Regions from separate parts of the Homo sapiens genome. Here region 2 is linked to region 1. Evidence: fine-mapped expression QTL. A gene starts in region 1. The other region holds a variant in brackets. All regions are shown on one strand. Distances are from middle to middle. Region 1 holds the start of BTBD9 (BTB domain containing 9). Region 2 holds the start of LOC124901315 (a long non-coding RNA gene).

Region 1 (9,876 bases):
AAACGTCCAAAAGTTCCATTCACCATCTTTTCCAGTTCTCACTCTCCATTTTTCTGGCATTGGGGCCTCTCCTACTATCTCTACATCTATAACTACTACTAACAATAACAGCAACAGCTGCCATTTATTATATTAAGCATCTATAAGACAGGCATTGTGTTAATCACTGTGCACATAGTACCTTTGTGTTAATCACTGTGCACATGTATAATCTCCACAATTCTTTAATTCAGATAAGAAGCCTAGGCTTAGAGAAGTTAAATAACTTGCCAAAGGTCAGCCAACCAATAAACAGCATAACAGAGATTTGACCTGCCATCTTCCTAACTCCAAAGTCCACTAAGTTAACTACTATACTAACATGCCTCCTAGAAGGTTGCTACTCCCACAGCCTCAGCGGACATCTATATTACAATTGTCCCTAACCATCTCATAAACTCTGAAGTAGCATTTCCAGTTACTTAGTGGATCTCTCTTTTTAAACTCCCCACAGAAACCTCAGAATTAACACTGCCATTATTTCTTCTCTCCACTTCAAACCTGTTCCTCTTCCTGTGATTTCTAACTTAATGTCATCATAAGCAAACAGTTGCTCAAACTAGACATATTATCTTTGACTTCTCACTCTCCCTTACCTCTAGCTGGTCATAAATGTAGAGATTTTAACATCTAAAAATGTCTCCAAAATCTATCCATTCCCATTGTCCAACATTTCTCACCTACACTCTAGTCTCCCTGCCTCTCTACTCTAATGCAATCTGCACACGAACTGTCAACTTTCTGATTATTCTACCTTCTATGGCTCTCCACTGCCAATGGATGGGAGGAGTCTAGACTTTTTAGGATGAAGTGGAAGACCCCCTCATAATTTGGCTCCAAAAACAGCTTCCTGCCTCATCACTTCCCCCATGCAATAAGAAGTGATTAGGCCCTCATGAATGGATGAATGCCATTATAGCAGGAATGGGTTCATTATCTCAGGAATGGGTTCTTGAGATGAGTTCAGCCCTCTCCCCTCTCTTGCCCACAAGAAACAACTCAAGATATTTCCAAAAGCGCTATTTAATTTTAATATTCAGCAACTTTGCTTATGCTGGCCCCTGGAATGCTCTCTTCCACCTCTACATGTGGCGAAATTTTATTTAACCCTCAGAGCTAAGCTCCATCCCCTTCTTCTCAACATGTTCCCTATCAGTTTTTTCTCCAGCCAAAGCACTCTACTCCCCCAGCACATTATTCATTCCAAAAGTGATTAATTTGTCACAGCACATAATGGTTAGTGGTTTATCTCTTCTGATGAACACTTAGTATGCTGAGCATATACTGTGTCTTAACTTCTTTGTCTTCCCAGCACCCAACGAAGTGTCTCGCCATAGCCAGCACCCAGTAAGTATCTGCTGAGTTGTTAAATAATGCAACATTTGCAGTTGTAACTTTACACATCTTGGTTAGCAATTCAACTTCAGGTTTACATACCACTCAAAAGAATTTTCACATAACAGAAGATGTTATAAATAAAGACCAAGGGTTCAATATTCAGCAGCAGGGTCTTTAATTATTCTGAAATCTCTTTGGTCAGTATTTTTAAGCATCGTTCATCAGAAAGACTCCTTTCCCAACTAACATTTGTATATTTTACAGGATCAGCAGTAAAGACAAACCTCAGAGAGATAATCCCAAGCAAAACTATGTCACTGAGTGTGACTGGATGACTATTGGTACATCATTTCAGTAAATTTCCAATACAATGGCCCAAGTACATCAGGTAGATTTTAGATAATGAGACATGCACCACTGACTACCTAAAATACATGCACATTAGTGAGGCATCGATTCCAATTAGTAATTGAAATCAAAAGTATATTAACAACCTGATATTGGTTCAAGCGTAATATCCTTTACTTTCAAGTAAGGATAACACTTATTCTTGTCAAAGACTGTACTCTGATTAATACAACCTCTATCCCACCTTACAAGAAGGCTGTATCTTGTTAACAGTGGGATGCTGATAAGCCCGCCTTAATCCTTAACACTTTGCCTTCCCAACCTGCTAAGCCATCTCTCTCCAGTATTCCCCTATAAGAGACGTTCCGCTCCAGTTACCAGACATAAAAGTCGTCTTGGTATATCCTCCAACAACCAAATTCACATTATTATTTTCTCAGCTCCTGGTTTATTTCCTAACAAATTTTAACTTCTTTCAGAGACCAAGTCAAATCTTGCCTCTTTCAAAGAGTTCCCTAACTCAGCCTACACATCCTATCTTTTCTGATTTTCTACCACATTTATAGTCCTCAAACAGCACTGGTTACCTGCTACTTAACTTGGTTTTATAATTATTTTATACATCTCCTAGCTAGACTACTGCTCTCAAAGGGAAAAAAAAGACAGGTCTTCTATGTCATTTTTCACTCCATAATCCTCCTCCCACACCTATCATGATACTGGGCAGAGGGAGGCACATGTATTAAGTACTTGATGGACTGAACTCAATGCTTTCTATACATAGATACACCACTTGAGCATAGTGTGCTATATAACAAATATCCATTGCATGCCTACTCTGTGGCAAGCACATTTTTCCTATGTGTTAGACATAGGGCAAGGAGGAAAACACAGATGACTCCTGTCCTAAAAGCTATTACAGTGGAGGGAGGAAGACACTTTGAATTCCGAGTAATCTAATAAGTGTTACAAAGCAAGGTTATTACTGGTTCCAAGAGGTAACATACTTTACAGATTCTCAGTTATGAAACAGAATCATAGAATTTTAGACCTAAATGAGAACCTTGAACTTATTTTCCTCTATCCTCTTACACAAAACATTAGATTTCAGTACAGCCTATCTTTTCACTGGTTCTACAAATTGCCTTAATCAACAGAAAGAAAAGACTGGCTTCTTCCCTGTCTCCAATATTCCTCGCTCCCAAGTATGGTAACCACAACCCCTATACATCTACCCATGATAGAGTCCAGAGCACTGAGAAGACAGCACAGGGCTGAGGATGAGCTACACCTTTACATGCTGGGTTCTCCCATCATCAACACTTTCCGCCCACACAGTGAACAGAATCCGTATTTTCTGCCCAGAAAATAGCAGCCTGTACTGCCTTTAGGAAAAACAAACAAAACATGCTTCCATACTTCCTTGGATCTACTAATGACAAAAGCACAACACGGTTCTGGGAAATATAGCAAGATAACTAAGTCTATGAGGAAGTAAGAAATGAGGATGCCTATCAGCACCTTGGTCTCAAAATCTGTAACAACAATGTACTAAAACGCCAAGGAAACACATGCACATACATGTGAAGTTAGAAACTCTAGGCAACAGGTTGGCTGCCCCGGATCTATACTGACAGGTCGCCCTCCCAAGGTCGTGGGTGTGTCTGATGCCGCACGCAGGCACTGATTCACAACTCTCTCCATAACAACCAGCTCCTACTCAGAGGCTGGCCAGGGCAGGGGAGATGAGGGCCCCAGCAGTCCCAAACTTTCCAAACCCCCACCCCGGGGTCCCGGGTTTCGCCTCCTCAGTCCCAGGCAACGTCGTCTCAGACAGGATACGAGACTGCTAGGGAACCTGGGCTGCCCCTGATTCGAACTCCTCTCTTTGGGAGGCTGGTAGAGCCACCCCGAATCCCCGAAACGTCTACTTCCCACTACACCTTCGTGGACTGCGAACGGGACGGCTACCGCTCTCCCAGAGCACCCGGGCCCAAGAAATGACCCTCGTCAGGCCCCGTCCCAGCTCCTCCCCCGCCCCCGGAAAAAGCGGCGGAGGGGCGGGGGGCGGTGCGCGCGGATACGGCGGGGGCGCGCGTCCCCGCGCCGCAGGTGCGGCCAGGCCCCACCTCCCCTGCAAGGACCCGGCTACTCACCCCAGCGATGCTCCTCTGAGACCAAGCTGCGACACAGACGCCTCTTCCGCCCGCTCCGCACCCCTCTCTGCGCCACCGCCCCCTTGGCCGCTTCCGTGGCCGCCGTCCTCGCCGCCGCCCCGGCTGCTGCGGCGCGCGTCCGCTTTCACGCACTCCGCCGTGGCCGCGCACGCGCCACTGCGCGCTGGCGTCACTTAGCAACCGATCGACAGCGGGCTGCTGGGTCCGGCGATGCAGGCCCAGAAAGTCGCCTAAGGCAGCTTCCGCGGCTTTTTCGCATCGGCCCGACCCTCTGCCCCTCCAGAACAGGGGGCCCCAGGGTGTGGCTGCCCTGCCGGCACCTGGCTCCGGGTAAGTCGAGTCACCACACGTCACTGTATGGCGTCACCGGCGCACGTCACTACGGATGAGAAGGTCCTGGGCGCCTGTGGAGTGACCTCGTCCAGACCGCCGCAGACCCGATCGGCAAGTTCTTGGAGGTGCAGGAAGGTTCTCCAAGGAGTAGGACCAGAAAGGGATGAGAGCGCGAGCGCGGTTAATGTCGAGGCTGCTAAGTGATGCTCGTTAATTTCGCAGCAGGGTGTGACTGGCCCAGCCTTGACTCTCAGTTTCCTCTCTCAGTAAATGGGCATAATAATACCGGTCCAGCCTACGCTGGAGAATTGTGAGGTGAAAATGAAATAAGGTATGCAAAGGTACTTTGTAAGTATAAAGCCCATTTGACTTGGTGGCTCAAGCCTGTAATCCCAGCACTTTGGGAGGCCGAGGTGGGCGGATCGCTTGAGCTCAGGAGTTCGACACCAGCCTGGGTAACATAGTGAAACCCCGTCTCTACAAAAAAGACAAAAACTAAATGGGCATGTTGGCGCGCGCCTGTAGTCACAAATGCTCGGGGGGCTGAGGTGGGAGGATCGCTTGAACCTGGGGAGTTCAAGATTGCAGTGAACCGTGATCGCGCCGCTGCACTCCAGCCTCTGCAGTGAGAGCAAGACACTGTCTCAAAAAAATGTATTTATCTATCTACATAGATAAGAGTCCTAGAAATCCGGGTGCAGGTCTGACTGTAGCTGGTGTAGGAAAGTCAGTTATCCCCGACGCTGGAGCAAGCTAGGGGACCGCCCTTGCAGTTGTTGGAGGAGACAAATTGGGAAGGACTTAATTCCGGGCAAAGGAAGCTTCATGAGTAAAAGTAGAAAGTGAAAATGGTCAGGAAAAGCAAGGCTTGGGGCAGGGAGACCCATTTTTAGGCCATTGCAGTACTCCAGACAAGTGATAAGAACATTAAACAAGGCATTGGCAGTGGGAATAGAGGAGGGGATAGATGTTAGCGCCATTAAGGTGGTAGAATTCACAGCACTGAGTGCGGATAAATGAGTAGGCCAGGTTTCTAGCATGAGTGCTGAGGTAGACAGTGGTAACATTTAGCAAGATGGCAAGCTACATGAGTCTTGATTATCCACAAGTGTCTAAGTTACTATTATAGATAGTGATGGTGACATTTCTTAGGAGGATGACCAGATATGTGGAGTATGATGATGAGTTCAAATATGGATATGTTTGTTAGGGAAACATTTACTCTCCATTCACAATGTCTTTCTTCCATATGGAATGATATCCATTAGTGTAATACTCTCCTGGTTTCTCTTATACCTGTCTGCAACTCACTCTTGCCTAGAGGAGTGACTTCCTGATTGGTGAACTTAAATGGGAGAAACTGGACATGTGGCATCTATCCCATTCTTTTTCTCTTAAAAGATAACTATCTTCAGGGAACTGTCCTGGTGTTCTTTTCCGTTTCTTCTGGAGCAGGGCCTGTGGGTAGGGACAAGGGTGCCTAGTCCAGGGCTACAAAGAGAGTATATGTATTTAATTCCAGAGTTTGGCATTAGGAAGCTGTCTGTCCACAGATAATATTTAATACCAGCTTTGTCAGCTGTGTTACACAGAATAATGATCCCCCCCAACCAAAAAAAAAAGGATGACCACACCCTAATACTCAGAACCCATGAATATGTTATATTATGTGGCAAAAGGGACTTTGCAGATATGATTAAATGATGTATCTAGGGAGATTATCCTGGATTGTCTGACTGGGCTGGAGGCAGGAGGGTCAGAGTCAGAGAAGGAGATGTGATGATGGAAGCAGAGGTCAGACAGAGATTTGAAGATGCTATACTGTTGGCTTTGAAGATGGACCCAAGAAACGCAAGCAAATTGTAGATGCGGGAGAAGGCAAGGAAATGGATTCTTCTCTAGCACCCTAAGAACACAGCCCTGCCAACACCTTGATTTTAGGACTTCTGACTTCTAGAACTGCGAGATAAGAAACTTGTATGTTTTAAGGTACCAAGTTTGTGCTAACTTGTTACAACAGCAATAGGAAACTGATACAGTCAGTAATAAAGATAATAGTTGGTTTCCTGCAGCTTTCTCCATTACCTGGAAAAGAAGGGTACAATTCAGTAGGTCCCCTCAGAGACTATAGCAATATGACTGTGACCTGATGGAACCTCCACATCTAGAGAAAAATGTCCAATAAACACTCAAACTGTACAGGTCTATGAATGAGGAAAGAGGTTGAGTTAAAATAGATTTGGAAGAAATAAATTAATAATTGGTAATTTAAGCCCGAGGCATGGATGAGATCAATCAGGGAGAAAATACAGAAGACATAATAAGGAGAGGCAAGGATAGGGCCCCTGGAGAGCACTAACTTTAAAAGGAGGTGCAGATGATCAGAAGCCCAAAAAGAAGTCTGAGGAAGAATGGCCAGAGAGAGAAAAGGAGAACTAGGTGAGCCTAATGCCTCTGAAGCCAAGCAAGCAAGATGGAGAGGGGTCAACAGAGTCAGAGACCACAAAAAGGCCAAGTATATCAAGAACTGGAAAGCATTCACTGGATTTAGCAACAGAAAAGTGATTGGTAACCAACAATAGCAAACTTCAGTGGGATAGTGGAGATAGATACCAAATCACTGAGATCTGAAAGGCAGATCAATATAGTGGATTGGCCTCTAGACTAGTTTGATGGGAGTTTTGAGATTCTAGTCTTGATTCTGGCCATTAACTAGCTAGATAACTTTGAACAAATCCCTCAACTACTCCAGGCTTTGGTTTTCGCATCTGGCAAAGGATGAGATCAAGCTGAGTCTATGATTTTCTCATTAATTCCTAGATAATCCCCCCAGTTTTATTTTTTTATTTTTTGTCATATCTGATTCAATACTTTTATTTATTTTTATTTTTTATTTTTGAGACAGCATCTTGCTCTGTTGCCCAGTGTGGAGTGCAGTGGTACAATCTTGGCTCACTGCAGCCTCAACCCCCGGGCTCAATCACCCCAATTTCATATCAGACTCACTTGCTTATAACAGCACACTTCAAATCCTTCTCAGACCATTTTCCAACCACTAAGAATCAGTATATTTCATGCCAGCTTCTGTCCTAGATACTATGGCTATAACACAGTTTTCAAGGAACTCACAATTTGGAGAGAGAGAGAGAAATACTAAGTATGTAACTAGCTGTCATAGTTCTTTAAAAAAAAAAAAAGAAAAAAAAGTAAGGCCAGGCGCGGTGGCTTATGCCTGTAATCCTAGCACTTTGGGAGGCCGAGGCGGGTAGATCACCTGAGGTCAAGAGTTTGAGATCAGCCTGACCAATATGATGAAAACCCGTCTCTACTGAAAATACAAAAATTAGCCGGGCATGGTGGCATATGCCATCATCCCAGCTACTCAGGAGGCTGAGACAGGAGAATCACTTGAATCCGGGAGGCAGAGGTTGTGTAGAGCCAAGATCTCGCCATTGGACTCCAGCCTGGGCAACAAGAGCAAAACTCTGTCTCAAAAAAAAAATTAAAATAAGTAAATAAATAAAAATAAAAAATAATAAGATAGACCTGATTGTGGTGGCTCATGCCCCGTAATCCCAGTGCTTTGGAAGGCCAAAATGGGAAGATCACCTGAGGCCAGGAGTTTGAGACCAGCCTGGGCAATATAGCCAGACACCCATCTCTACAAAAATTTTCTAAAAATTAGCCAGGTGTGGTGGTGCGCACCTGCAGTTCTAACTACTTGGGAGGCTGAGGCAAGAGGATTGGGTGAGCCCAGGAGTTTGAGGTTACAGTGAGCTATTACCAGATTACAGTGAGCTATGACTGTGCCAGTGCACTTCAGCCTGGGCAACAGAGCAAGACCCTAAAAGCTAGATATAAATATATTGTAAGTATAATACAATATACTATAACAGAATCTGTATGAAGTGAAATGAGGGATATATAAAGTGATACAGATAAGGGCGCAGTTAGCTCTATCTAATGGAAGTCAAGAGTGTTGTACTTACCTACACTGTTAAGTAAACACAGTATGCCTCAAAAATGGACACAAATATATTAAGGCATTTCCATGGAGGTAAAAAAAGAACAGGAGAATTGTGCTAAACCAGCGTTGTCACCTAACATTCCTTCTAGGTAGTTTTGTTGTGATCTAAATGAATATTTATATATAACTGTTTCTAAACTAAAATTGGTTAGTTGTTAAAATGGACACAAATAAAAGTTAAATGCAAGAATAATTTATATTTTTCCAGTAGATTCAAGAGGAAATATTTTTTGTCACTAATGCCATGCTTTAATACATTTGCTTGTCTAATCCTCATGTATTATCTTACTTAATTTTGTAAACATTAGCTTATTGTATAGATCACTGACAAAGTATCTGTTTTAGCAGATAGGGACAAAGTTTAAATAATTTGGCCAAGGTCATAGTAGACCAAGATTTGGACCCAGCACAAGCATCCTCTTTCCAGGAAACCTTCCCTCAGGCCCTTAGTTGGTTTAAGTGCCCTCTCTCTGTACTATTAGCATATGCACACACATTCATTTTAGCGTTGACTTTAATAATAAGGATGTTTACCATGTACCAGATACATAGTACTTGCACCTATGTTATCTATGTTTAAGTGTTTTGTAGGCATTAGTTCATTTAAGCCTCATAACTGCCCTTTGAAGTAGGTGATATTATTCACAATATTTTATAAAACAGGAAGCCAAGGCATAGAAAGTTAAGTAATTACTCAAGGTACAATTAATAAGTGATAAAGCTAGGATTCGAATCCATGCTTTTAACCCCCCAGGCTTCATACTATGTACCCTTTCCCTTATACTGAGGAATTCTAGAAGGCATAGTTGACAGGTTGTTGTGTGTGATATCACTCTGTGTTCCTCATATGAACACAAGAGAATTTTCTCTCTGAGCCACAAGTCATGAAATATTTGGCTACCCTTGAGTAACTGATGTGTTTTCTCTTTATAGGCAATGTGAATTATATAACTGCCTGTTTTTCACTTTTCACTTTGCCAAGAAGCTCTGAGTAAATTTGTTGGCTCAGCGTTTGTAAGTGGGTGAATTGGCCTGCATATCTGTATTCTGTTGCTTTGAAATTTTTAAAAATAAATAGTTGAGAGAAAAATAATGTAAATTTTCTTTATTTTCCAAATTGTTGACAATGTACAATGATAATTTTTATAATTAGAAAAATAAACTTTGTTCTTAAAAGAACGTTTGAAGCTTCAAATGATTTCTCATGCTTTGACTCTGTGAATAAGAGCTGGTTTCAGGTTAAGTTGCATGAGTTAAATATAGAATCCAGGTTCATATAAAACCAAGACTTCTGTATGACCTGGAAAGTCCAGATCAATAGAATTGTTCAGACGGATCAAAAAGTATTTTAGGTAGCATAAAATAGTTGTAGCCCTTCTTGTTTTTAACTTATGTTTAAGTAATTTGAAACCACTTTTAGGTTATTTGGACACATGCTCCCTCGCTTTAGAAATCAAAAAACCCATTATCTTCCTATATGCTGATGATATTTTATTATAATAAACTTTATGGCTGATTTTGTTGCTCACCGTTTATCAGAAGGAATGGATCAAGATCACCTGTTCCAAAACTAAAATAATTTTTTAGGGCACATGTCCTCAAATTTAATTGGCT
Region 2 (9,876 bases), 470 kb before region 1:
GGATCCATGAAGCCTCCTCACCGCCTCACACCGGCCCGCCACCCCTCCCCCTCCTCCGCCACACCAGCCAGGAGGCATCGAGCCTTCTTCCCCTGGCCCCCTCCTCCTGGAAGTCTCCCCCAGAGGGCCACGACTCTTGTTCCCCACCCCTCAGGGCTTTACTCAGCTGTCACCTTCTCTGGAAGCCTCTCTGGGCCACGGACTTCAACATGCACGCCCAGCCCGGCATCCTCTCCCTCTGCACATGGGCTGGGCCACATTCACACTGACGCTGGTGTCTGCTCCCTGGAAGGTGAGGGAGGGCAAGAGGGGCAGCCTCCCTGCTCCATCCCCAGCACTTGGGAGGCAGGCGGCATGGGGGGGTGGTGGGGGGGTACAGTGGCCTGGGCGGGGCGGTGGCAGGACAAAGCCCAGTGCTCTCTGGATTGGGTTTTGTCTTGTTCAACACTCACGTCAGCCAATTATTGGCAACAAGTTGTCAGTTCTGGAAGATCGAAGCTAGGTGGGTGTGCTCCCGAAAGGATGCCTGCATGGTTTGGAAATGGAGCACCTGACTTGGAGCCCCAGTGCTCGGCCAAAGCCACCAGGTGGAAGTTAACCAAAAACATGGAGAGTCCCTAGTGCAGGTTCCAAGAAAAAATTCCACTGAGAGGAGCAGACCCCTGCCTGGTTTCCACGTGACAACAGCTCAGGAGGAGGCCAAGGCTCCAGGTGGCCGGGGTCCCTCATGTTCAGCGCATGGAGCCTTGGGCCCCACATGCACCAGCGGAGTTGCTGGAGACTCAGGCCCAGTTGTGGGGTCACAGGAGAGGGCACTGGATCCCAGACGGCAGGGCCTGCAACACTGAGTTCACACACCCAGGACTCGAGATTGGGGCCAGGGAGAGCGGCAGCGCCTGCAAGGGGCCGCCTCCTGGCTCACTGGTTCCCTTCCCCGCATCTCCCCTGGGAAGCAAGATAAATGGGGGAAGTTGCTACCAAATACTCACGGGCTCATCAGGTAGAAGAAGCAAGACATGAGGAAGAAAGCAGCTGGGGCTAAGCTCAGAGGAGGAGAAATGACAAGGGAAGGGGACTGGGTTCAAGGTGGTGTTTCCTAACCCCCCAAAAATGGCATCGAATAGGCCATGGGGTGGGGTGGAGAGAGTGCCACAGGAGGTGGGAGGGAGCTGGACAGCCCCTCCACCCTGAGGGAAGGCCCTCAGAGCCGGTGACAGTGCTGGCCCAAATCCGCTGGATCTGCCCACGCCGCCGCCCTGGAGCAAGCCGGCCTCTCTGTGCCTGCTTTGCTCCAGGGCTGTCTGCCTCCCTCCACAAGGCAGAGGAAGCGAGCGGGGGCCTGGGTGGACACCCCTGAGTGCCTGGGCCTGCAGAGAGGGCCGGATGGCAGTGTCCATATGAGGGCACTGGGGCAGAGGGGCTGACCCTGGCCTGGGCCCCCTGCTTGTCCCTGGGCATCGAGAGGGGTTGCTGCAGAGAGTGACGACTCGAATACAGCACAAGTCACCACTTTATTTCTAAGAGAAAACCTGCATTTTCACACACATGGACTCAGGGGTTTCGAACACACGGTTTGTACATCTGCCCGCTTAGGTTGCTCTGCAAAATGAGGAAGAAGCCGCATCGTGCTCACAAATAATACACATTCCACATAGCAGCACAGCCTTTTGGGCATCTTTGGAGTTTTAGACGGAGCTTCTGGAGTCACAGAGCCATTCCCAACCCAGGCCTGGCATGGTCCCTGCCCTTGCATCAGAGTGGCCTGGGAGGTACACACATCTTTACAGGCCCAGAAACGCCAAAGGCTGGGAGGCTCTTGTTCTCTGGTGAATCCGGATTCAAGACAGGCTTCGCAAAAGCAGCTCTTGGGCCGAGCTCCAGGCCTAGCCCTGAGGACCCCTGGCCTCCTGGCGCCCCTCCAGAGTCTCACGCTTCTCCAGGCACTGGGGGGTGGGGAAGGGTGGCCTCAGGGACATAAGGACCAGGGAGCGTGTGATGGAGAGATTTCTCACTGTTCTTCTGAGGGGGTGCAGCCTCTCTGAAGGTCACTGTGGAGGGCGCACCAAGGCCTGGAGAGCCTTGGGGAGAGATCAGGCCCCACAGACCTGGAAGCTCTGCCCCAGTATCCCCCAGCCTGGGCGGCCGGGCTGTGCTCCCTGAGGACCTTACTGGCAGCACCCTGCCCTGCTGACCCTGGAAGCAGCTGATTGAGGGGCCTGGGAAGACCCCATGGCCTCCAGCAGGTCTCAGAATGACTCCTGTAGTGGCTAGGACTAGGGCACTGGCCGCACCCTCAGGCCCAGGTGGGAAGTGTGGGCTGGGGGTAAACCCAGCAACTCAGGACTAGCAGCAGCCATCAGGGGCTGTGGTGCAGGAGCAGCCACCAGGGCAGCACCAGGAGGCAAAGGCCCTGAGGGAGATGAGCTGGTGCCGTCCCCTCCCAATTCCGCTCAGATGGGCACCCTCGCCTTCCTGGGACATAAACCCCTGGGGCTCATGTGGTGGGGAGCAATTTGGCAGCAGACGGACTAATATCAACGTCTCCAGTGACCCAGGGCCCAGTCCCTGCCCTGAAGGCTGCTCAGCCCCTCCAGCCCCCGTCCCGCCTCGCAACGCCTCCTCTGCGCCAGGGCCAGGGCCTCTCCCCCTAGTGGAGCGACTGTCCACTGGCTTTCAAAGGCGGCACTCCTCAGCTGTCACAGCCGCAGTGACAGCCTTGGGGAGGCTGAGGGGGCTCTGTCAACCAGGGGACACTAGTGGGGACAGGTGTGTAGCTCCTGGCTGCAGGGCCTCCTCCACCCCCCCTCCCCCCCGCCCATTCAGGGCTATAAATACTCACGGACGCAAATGGTAAATGCTCCCAGACATTTATCATAAATTACAGGTGGATGATTGTGAGTCTTCAGGCCATGAGGCCTCTTGGGGACTATTTCAGTTCTTTAAAAAAAAGAAGACACGAAGCTGATGGGGCAGGAGGGCCGTTCAGCCTGGCTTCTGACTGGAAGCTCGCTGGGTGCAGCAGACTGGCCTGGGAGATGCCAGGGTGCTGGGTGGGTTGGAGGCTGGGCCAGGGAGCACCGTGACCAGTGGTGGTCACAGAGGACGTGAACGATGACGTGGGCCCAGGTCGGAAGCAGCCAGAGCCAGATGAAGGGCACCTGGCCCCTTCCGCGAGGTTGGAGCATTATGCCAGGAACAGGTGTTCCCTGTACACTTTTTTAAGTGAGTAAAGAGAACAGTGATTTTCAAACAATGGTGTGTCGGGTGGGGCGGCTCTTCCATGCACCTGTCCCCTGCCTCTGCATGAGCCCAGCAGAAAATCCTAGCTGGAAGGCCGTGGGGCTTGGGGCCAGCACTGTGCAAAGGATGGGTGAGCACGCTGTCCCTCGGAGCGTCCTCAGTGGTGCAGCCAAGAGCCAGGAAGGGCACAGCCTCTTTCCTCCTCCCTGATGGAAGCCAGAGACCTACCACAAACAAAGACCTGCTGCCTCCGCCCCTCCTCCCTCCGCCTCGCCTCTGCAACCGGTCTTTCCTCCAAGCAAACCTTTTCCGCGCCCTTCACCATTCACTCTGCAAATGACCAGGGCCTCCAAATCCCGTCCAGCCCCAGGTATGACTGGATCCGTGTCAGCGAGAGAGATGGGGGCATTCCAGTTGTCCTGCATGCCATTTAAACCTTGCCCTTCCCTCTCTTCTGGAAACTCTGAGCAAACACCAGGCACTAGGACAACTTCTAATTTAATATTATAATAATAAAAGCCACGGTGGCACAGAACCATGAACTGCACTTTAAATTCCTAACTGAACTCCTGCCGGGGCTGTTGTCAGGAAAAATATGCAGAATCAATGGCTGCAGCTGCCAAAACAAATGGAGTATGCCCACCTCTGCCACGGCATCGCTGCAGACCTGCCCTGCCCGGGCCGTGCCCGACCTGGGCATCGCTCGGAGGAGCTGGTCACCACATAGAAGGTAAGATTAAAATAATAACACCGACAAGCAAGCACTAATGAGGAAAAACTCCTGGAAGGAAGCAAATTTAATTTTCTTTTCCTCTTTGACACCTTTCTTCCCTGTCCAAAGGGAGGTTCTTAATTGAAGTCTGTGAGGGGAGCGCTCCATCTCTTTATCACCAAGTGGCCTCAGTACACAGAACGCTCGCTTTTTATTGTAGATTATACCTTCCTTTTCCCCCTTGGCTCTGGAAAGGATAAGTGATTACAATTTTGTTATCTTCTAAATTAAAAAGAAGGTGAAGTTGACTGGGCTGGAGCCATCTGCACAGCAGTTTGACAACTGGGGCGACAGCATAATACTGGGCAATTTTTTGCACAATTCAAAAGCTTTTTTTCTCTTTTTTGCCAAGGAATCAGTTTAACAAACATCCTACTCTTGCTGAAAATAATTTCTTTTCCCAACTCTTCTAGGAATAAAACACTTTTAATGTATTTGTCAGGAATCGACACTTCATTTAATAGGATTTAAAAAGTGACAATTTAAAGAGCAATTGAGAAGAGTCCCACATCCATCATGGCTTGTGCTTCTAACTAAAATCAAAGGAATGAAAGCAGAAAAAGCACTGAGAAAATGGTAAAACGGGTGTGTGTGTGTGTGTGTGTGTGTGTGTGTGTGTGTGTGTGTGTGTGTGAGAGGGAGAGACGGTGGGGGCGGGGGGTGGTTCATAGCTGCTTCAAGTCCAAAGTGCTCACAACGGCTCCTGTGAGACTGCCCTGCTGGGTGCTGGCTGCATGGACACAGCTGCTGCCCAGCACACACCCTACCTGCCCTACACTCTCAGTCCACCCCAAATGACCCTCCCCAGAGCTGCCAGAAGGTGACTTTGAAGGCTTTTTTCCCCAAAAGCTCCAATGAAGTTGCCTTTCTACTCTCAAAAAAAAAAAAAAAAAAAAAAAAAAAAAAAAAAAATAATAATAATAATAATAATAATAATAATGAAAAGTGAAGGGTGGGGGTGCTGGCCACCTCCCATTTCTTTGCCTGGGTGGTGGTGACCATGGCGCCCTTGTGTCCTTTCCATTGGTTACTGAGGACCATTGCCCTCATGGGCCCAGGCCACAGGCACCCACCTGTCAGCCTCACCTGCCACCTCTCTCCATGTTGGCTTGTTGCCCCTGGGGCTGGCCTGGGCATGGGGGAGCTTATCTCCCCGACCAGGGGCTTGGCCATGTCTCCTTCACAACCCCCGCTCCCC[A/G]CGGACTGAGCCTCCACTCTCTGCTGGGCTGAGGGCTCTGTGGTGCCCAGGAGCCCTCCCAGCCACGTGCCAGCCCATCCCATCATCAGCACTTGCTTTTAGCTTCAAGTGTTTAGGTCGCTTTGGTCCTGGTGGCCCAGGGGAGAAGTGCTCTGTAGGACCAGCCAGGCTCTGGGGAACTCCAGGCTGCCCGGGGACTTTCTGGTAGCCACTCACTTGTCCCTGTTCCCTGGAGATGAGGTCCTTGCCCTGGTGTGTGGTGTGACACACCTTGACTTGGCCTCCAGGCCCAGCTGGACACACGAAAAGAGTTCCTGCCCCAGTCAGAAGGCCCCTCAGGGAAGGGCAGTACCCCTCCAGCCTGGGAAAGGAGGTGAACCCGTGTCCTTTTGGAGTCCAGGGCAGGCTCCCAGCAAAGCGAGGGGGAGGCGAGCTGGCAGCGCGGCTGTGAGGGAATGAGACTTTGCCATCAGTCCTCACCAATGACATCTACTGTTAGTGCCACCCCATCGTCCCCATACTTCTCTTTATCTGATGATAAGGGGCATCTTTAAAGTGCTAGAAGACAGGAGGGACAGAGATCTGGAAGGGCATGCCCCGAAGGAAAGAACCGCCACAGGCCAGGGAGCTGCAGATGTGGGTCTAGGGCCGAGGCTTTGCAGCGTATTCCTTTTCAGATGCGAGGCCGAGCTGCCAAGCTGCTATCTCGTTCCCGGAGCACAGGAGGGCTCTGCGTGCTCTGTGGGCAGGGGACTGGAGGGTTGCAGATGCAGGGCCGGGCAGCTCCTCCAGCACCCCCACCAGCCCACCCTCTCTTCCCAAGGTCAGCAGCATGCTGCTTCAGGCCAAGGGCCTCTGGGCAGGTGATGCCCATGTTTAAAAAGAAGCATGTGAATGGCTCATTTCAAAATGTTTGAACTCTGCCCTTGATATGACTGTCTGGCTCCTTTGTCCCCATCTGGGTAGAAAACACACTGGGGAAGGAAGTGCTGTGTGTGCAGGAGCTCTCTGGCTAATTGGCAACCCGGGGCTGGGGGCTGACAGAGTCAGCAACCATGCTGGAGGGCCCCCCACTGTGAGCGGGCGCCCACCGTTCCTTACAGGAGCCTCCTCCCATTATGAAATGCCTGGCATCCCAGGAGTGTTCCACTCTCCCACACAACAGGGAAGTGGCAGAGATCAGAGCTGAGGGGATAGGAAGCAGCTCAGCCCTGCAGCTGGAGCTACCGGGGAGGATGGAGAGCTGCAGACCCTGGCTTCTCCTCAGGAACGTGTCCACCCTGCCCCGGTAGCCCTCTGATGTCTGCCATCCTGTGTTCACACGGAAAGACAGTCTTCCAATTTAATCACGCAGTTTGATGCTACCCTACTATTTCCATATGGACAAATCACTCAAAATCAAGTTAAACTAGGAGGAAGCGGCTGACCCGTTGGCTCTTTCTAGAGCGCAGCTGATATGTCTTTGACACACCTGAAAGGAAACTCCCACGCCCTCACCCTCCTTTGATCAGGGTTGCAGGTTGGCGCCGAAGACCCAAGGACTGCAGTGCTGCTCACGTGCCATGCCGTCCTGGGGAGACTCCCAGGCTGATGCTGATGGCGACAGAGGCCGGAGCTCTGGGGACAGCGGAGGGGCAGGCAATGTTGTGCGCAGTTACCCAGGGCAGGCAGCACTGGAATGGAAATCACTAAGTAGGAGACGGAGCCACATCAAGCCACCATCGTCAAATGAGGTCCTTTTGATGAGGATTAGGAGAAAAGCTTCTTGGAACTGCTATTTTTCAGTCCCCAGTTGAGTACTGTGGTGTGGGGGAAGCACGGAGTCCCAGTTCTGCGTTCCTGACGCTGATGGGCAGGTGGCTGCCTCTCCAATGCTTCGATAAACACAACTGGAGGGGCAGCTAAGCCACGGCAGTCCCCGGCAGGTTTGGCCACGCCAGAACTCGGTATATGTTTATCTACATGGACTTCGGAACAGTGAATTAGCAGCGGGCATAGTAACTATTTCCTTGTCAGCCTCCCAAGCTTAAAGGCTGGATCCATGTCAGGAATGACAGGTGAGTAACTCAGCCACACGAGTGACTATTAACTCCAGTGTCCACAGGTTGATTTGCTTGTGTGCATTTGTGGCACTTCCTCTGTGGCCCAAGTGCCAGGATGAGCTGCATCCGTGTCTCATTTAGGAGACATGCACGATGGGTCTCTGTCCCCGCAAGCTGAACCGTTCAAAACCAAGGAAGGAAAATTATAGCATCAAAAGGGATTAAAACTAGTGATTTGCTGTTTGAGCATTTCAAATAGATCCGGAACACCTATGATTCACTGAGTGGAGAATAACTAAAACAAATAAAAAATCATTTAGTTGCCAGGGCAATGTATTCCAGCAGAATGAACACTCTATGGAGGCCCATTCCTAAAGGGTGCCTCCAGGTAGCAAAGGCCCAATGGCTTTCTCCTCCGCCTGAGTGTTTGCGTGCCATTTTTGTATTCCAACACAGGCCTGTCTATGACTTCCTCCTGTTCCCTGCGCCTGGGCTAGATTAGAGAGGTAGGGTGTTAATGGTGGACTTGATGAAGATTGAAGACCCATTTTCTCCCCCTTGAGACCTGCCTGATTTGGATAAATTGAGAAGAACAAAGCAGCCCCTTTCTGTCCTTGGGAGAAAACCTGTTCGGTGTCTGCTTTTGCAGCTAGGTCGGCTCCTCCCTGGAAAGGGGCAGAGGTGGGGGCAGTCAACAGAGACCCCTGCTCAGGGAGGAGACCGTTTCCTGCCGTTGCCCGAGCCCACCAAGTCACACCAGGCCCGCTGCCTCCTTTATTGGTGCTGCCGGTTGGGGGAGCGTGAGTTGGAGCCTGGGCTGGAGGGTAGTGAGCTGCCACTAGGCGCCCGCAGCGCATGGGAGTCGAGCTGCTGACCGGCCAGGCTGGTGTCCCCTGTCCCCGATTCCTCACTATTTTCCTCCTTCTGGCTGCTCTGCTGCTCTGGACACTCAAAGTGGACACAGTGGAACACCTGGGAGAGAAAAGGAAAAGACCCCATGAGTGAAGGGTCAGCATGCGGCCCTGGAGTTGCCGCAAGTTGGGATACTGCCCTGCCCAGCTTTGGGGGCCACCACGAGGGAGTTAGAGGAGGTCCTTCCCACTGCCCACGCCTGCCCCGGCGCAGACACCTGATGGCAACTAGCATGCTGTAAACACATTTTGATCAGTCAAGAGGAAAGGAAATGAGCCAGTGGCCCAAAAGTTAGAGACACCATGACACGGATTCCCACAAAATCTTCACACTGGATTACTCCGTTTTTGCCAACCTTTGTCTAATGGGCTCTTTTTTCTTTTTTAATTAATTTTTGTATTTGGCAGTTGGGTTAAAAGTCAACAGGAGTTGACTGGTGGTGGTGGTGGTGGTGGTTCGATTCTGTGAGGTTGTGGAAAGCAGGTCCACAGATAACGTCCACCATCTGTGTGGCATCTGCGTGGGTTGTCTCTGGGTATTCTGGTTTTCTCCCGCGTCCCAAAGCTGTGCACTTGAGGTTCATTGGTGTGTCTGCAGGGTCCCAGTCTGAGTGCATGTGAATGTGTGTGAGCGTGCCCTGCAATGGCATGGTGTCCTGTCCTGAGCTGGTTCCTGATGCATAGTTCTCCTGGCCCTGCAATGGTTGAGCACAGACCCTGCTAAGCAGCCGTGCTGGGGAGTGGACTTCAACCTCATGTGGCTCCAGCCAGCCTGGAACAAACGCCCCCAATGTGTAGAAGCCAGCCACCTGGCCGACAGTCACCCTCTAGGAGCTAAGAAGAGTTTGCATACCTGACAGCAGGTCAGCCTGGAAGCACCATGAACTCTGTGCCAACACCGTGCCAGCACTGTGCAGACAGGGCACAGCACCGAGCTCAGCGCCCCGCAAGCAAGGGTAAGCCATGGCCCTGACCTGGAGAGTAGACAACGTGCTTCGGGGGGTCCTGACATGCATGTGTGAGCTGTGGGGTGCAGGAGAGAAGGGCGGGGTGGGGGCTGTCGTTGCCACTGCACGAGCATGTGTGCACATACATACACACGGCCTTCTACCGTAGAATCAAGTTCACAGAGACAAATGTAGTATCAACTGCAGAATTATATTGAAAATATAAATTCCACGCTTACCTCCCTGCATCACTGTTTTTTCCATATTCCCACTTCAATTCATTTATTGACCACTGTTTTAAATTTCACATTTTCTCATATGAAGACTGAGACCGTGTCTTCCTGGTGTGTCCACTCTGTTTTGGGAGCTGCCATTTTCTCTTAGAGGGAGCTGATTTCTCTCCTTATAGGGCAGGGGCTCAGGCACGGTCCTCGCCTCCTGCAGACCCCTCACTGCCTCACGGCTGAAGCTGTCCCCACTTAGCCTATGTCTCCCTCCTTTTCCTTTCTTTCCTTCCTTCCTTTTTTATAAAATCTCCTTCTGTGGGTCCATCTGCAGGGCTTACCAGTCAACAACTGGAGGGGCTAGGTCCTAGGGGAAGGCCTTATGTGGAGATCTGAACACTATTTGGGCCATCAGCTCTGCCCTGGGCTAGGCCAGGGGAATCTGAGAATCATCCTCTAGGTGACAACCATTAATCCACTCCTTCATCAGCTTCACAATCTTGCAGCTCTTCAGTAACAACACCGCCCTGGGCATGTCGGCC

The links. PIP is the estimated chance that this variant, and not a neighbour inherited with it, causes the effect.
Region 2: its variant is fine-mapped to the expression of BTBD9 in lung (TOPMed, PIP above 0.99).

Annotation. Positions count from the first base shown.
Region 1 is chr6:38,635,919-38,645,794 of GRCh38, forward strand. BTBD9 (BTB domain containing 9) reads right to left here and starts at 4,011. Exons shown (of 11, transcript NM_001099272.2): 1 at 3,882-4,011. It overlaps LOC105375044 (a long non-coding RNA gene), which reads left to right and starts at 4,477. Exons shown (of 3, transcript XR_926767.4): 1 at 4,477-4,566. RefSeq lists a silencer at 3,674-3,873 and enhancers at 3,973-4,473, 4,274-4,353.
Region 2 is chr6:38,166,959-38,176,834 of GRCh38, forward strand. BTBD9 (BTB domain containing 9) reads right to left here. Exons shown (of 11, transcript NM_001099272.2): 11 at 1,493-8,224. The coding sequence ends at 8,027. LOC124901315 (a long non-coding RNA gene) reads left to right here and starts at 8,220. Exons shown (of 2, transcript XR_007059571.1): 1 at 8,220-9,119. RefSeq lists enhancers at 1,232-1,862, 1,863-2,494, 2,495-3,126. The variant A/G (reference allele first, on the strand shown) is at 5,211.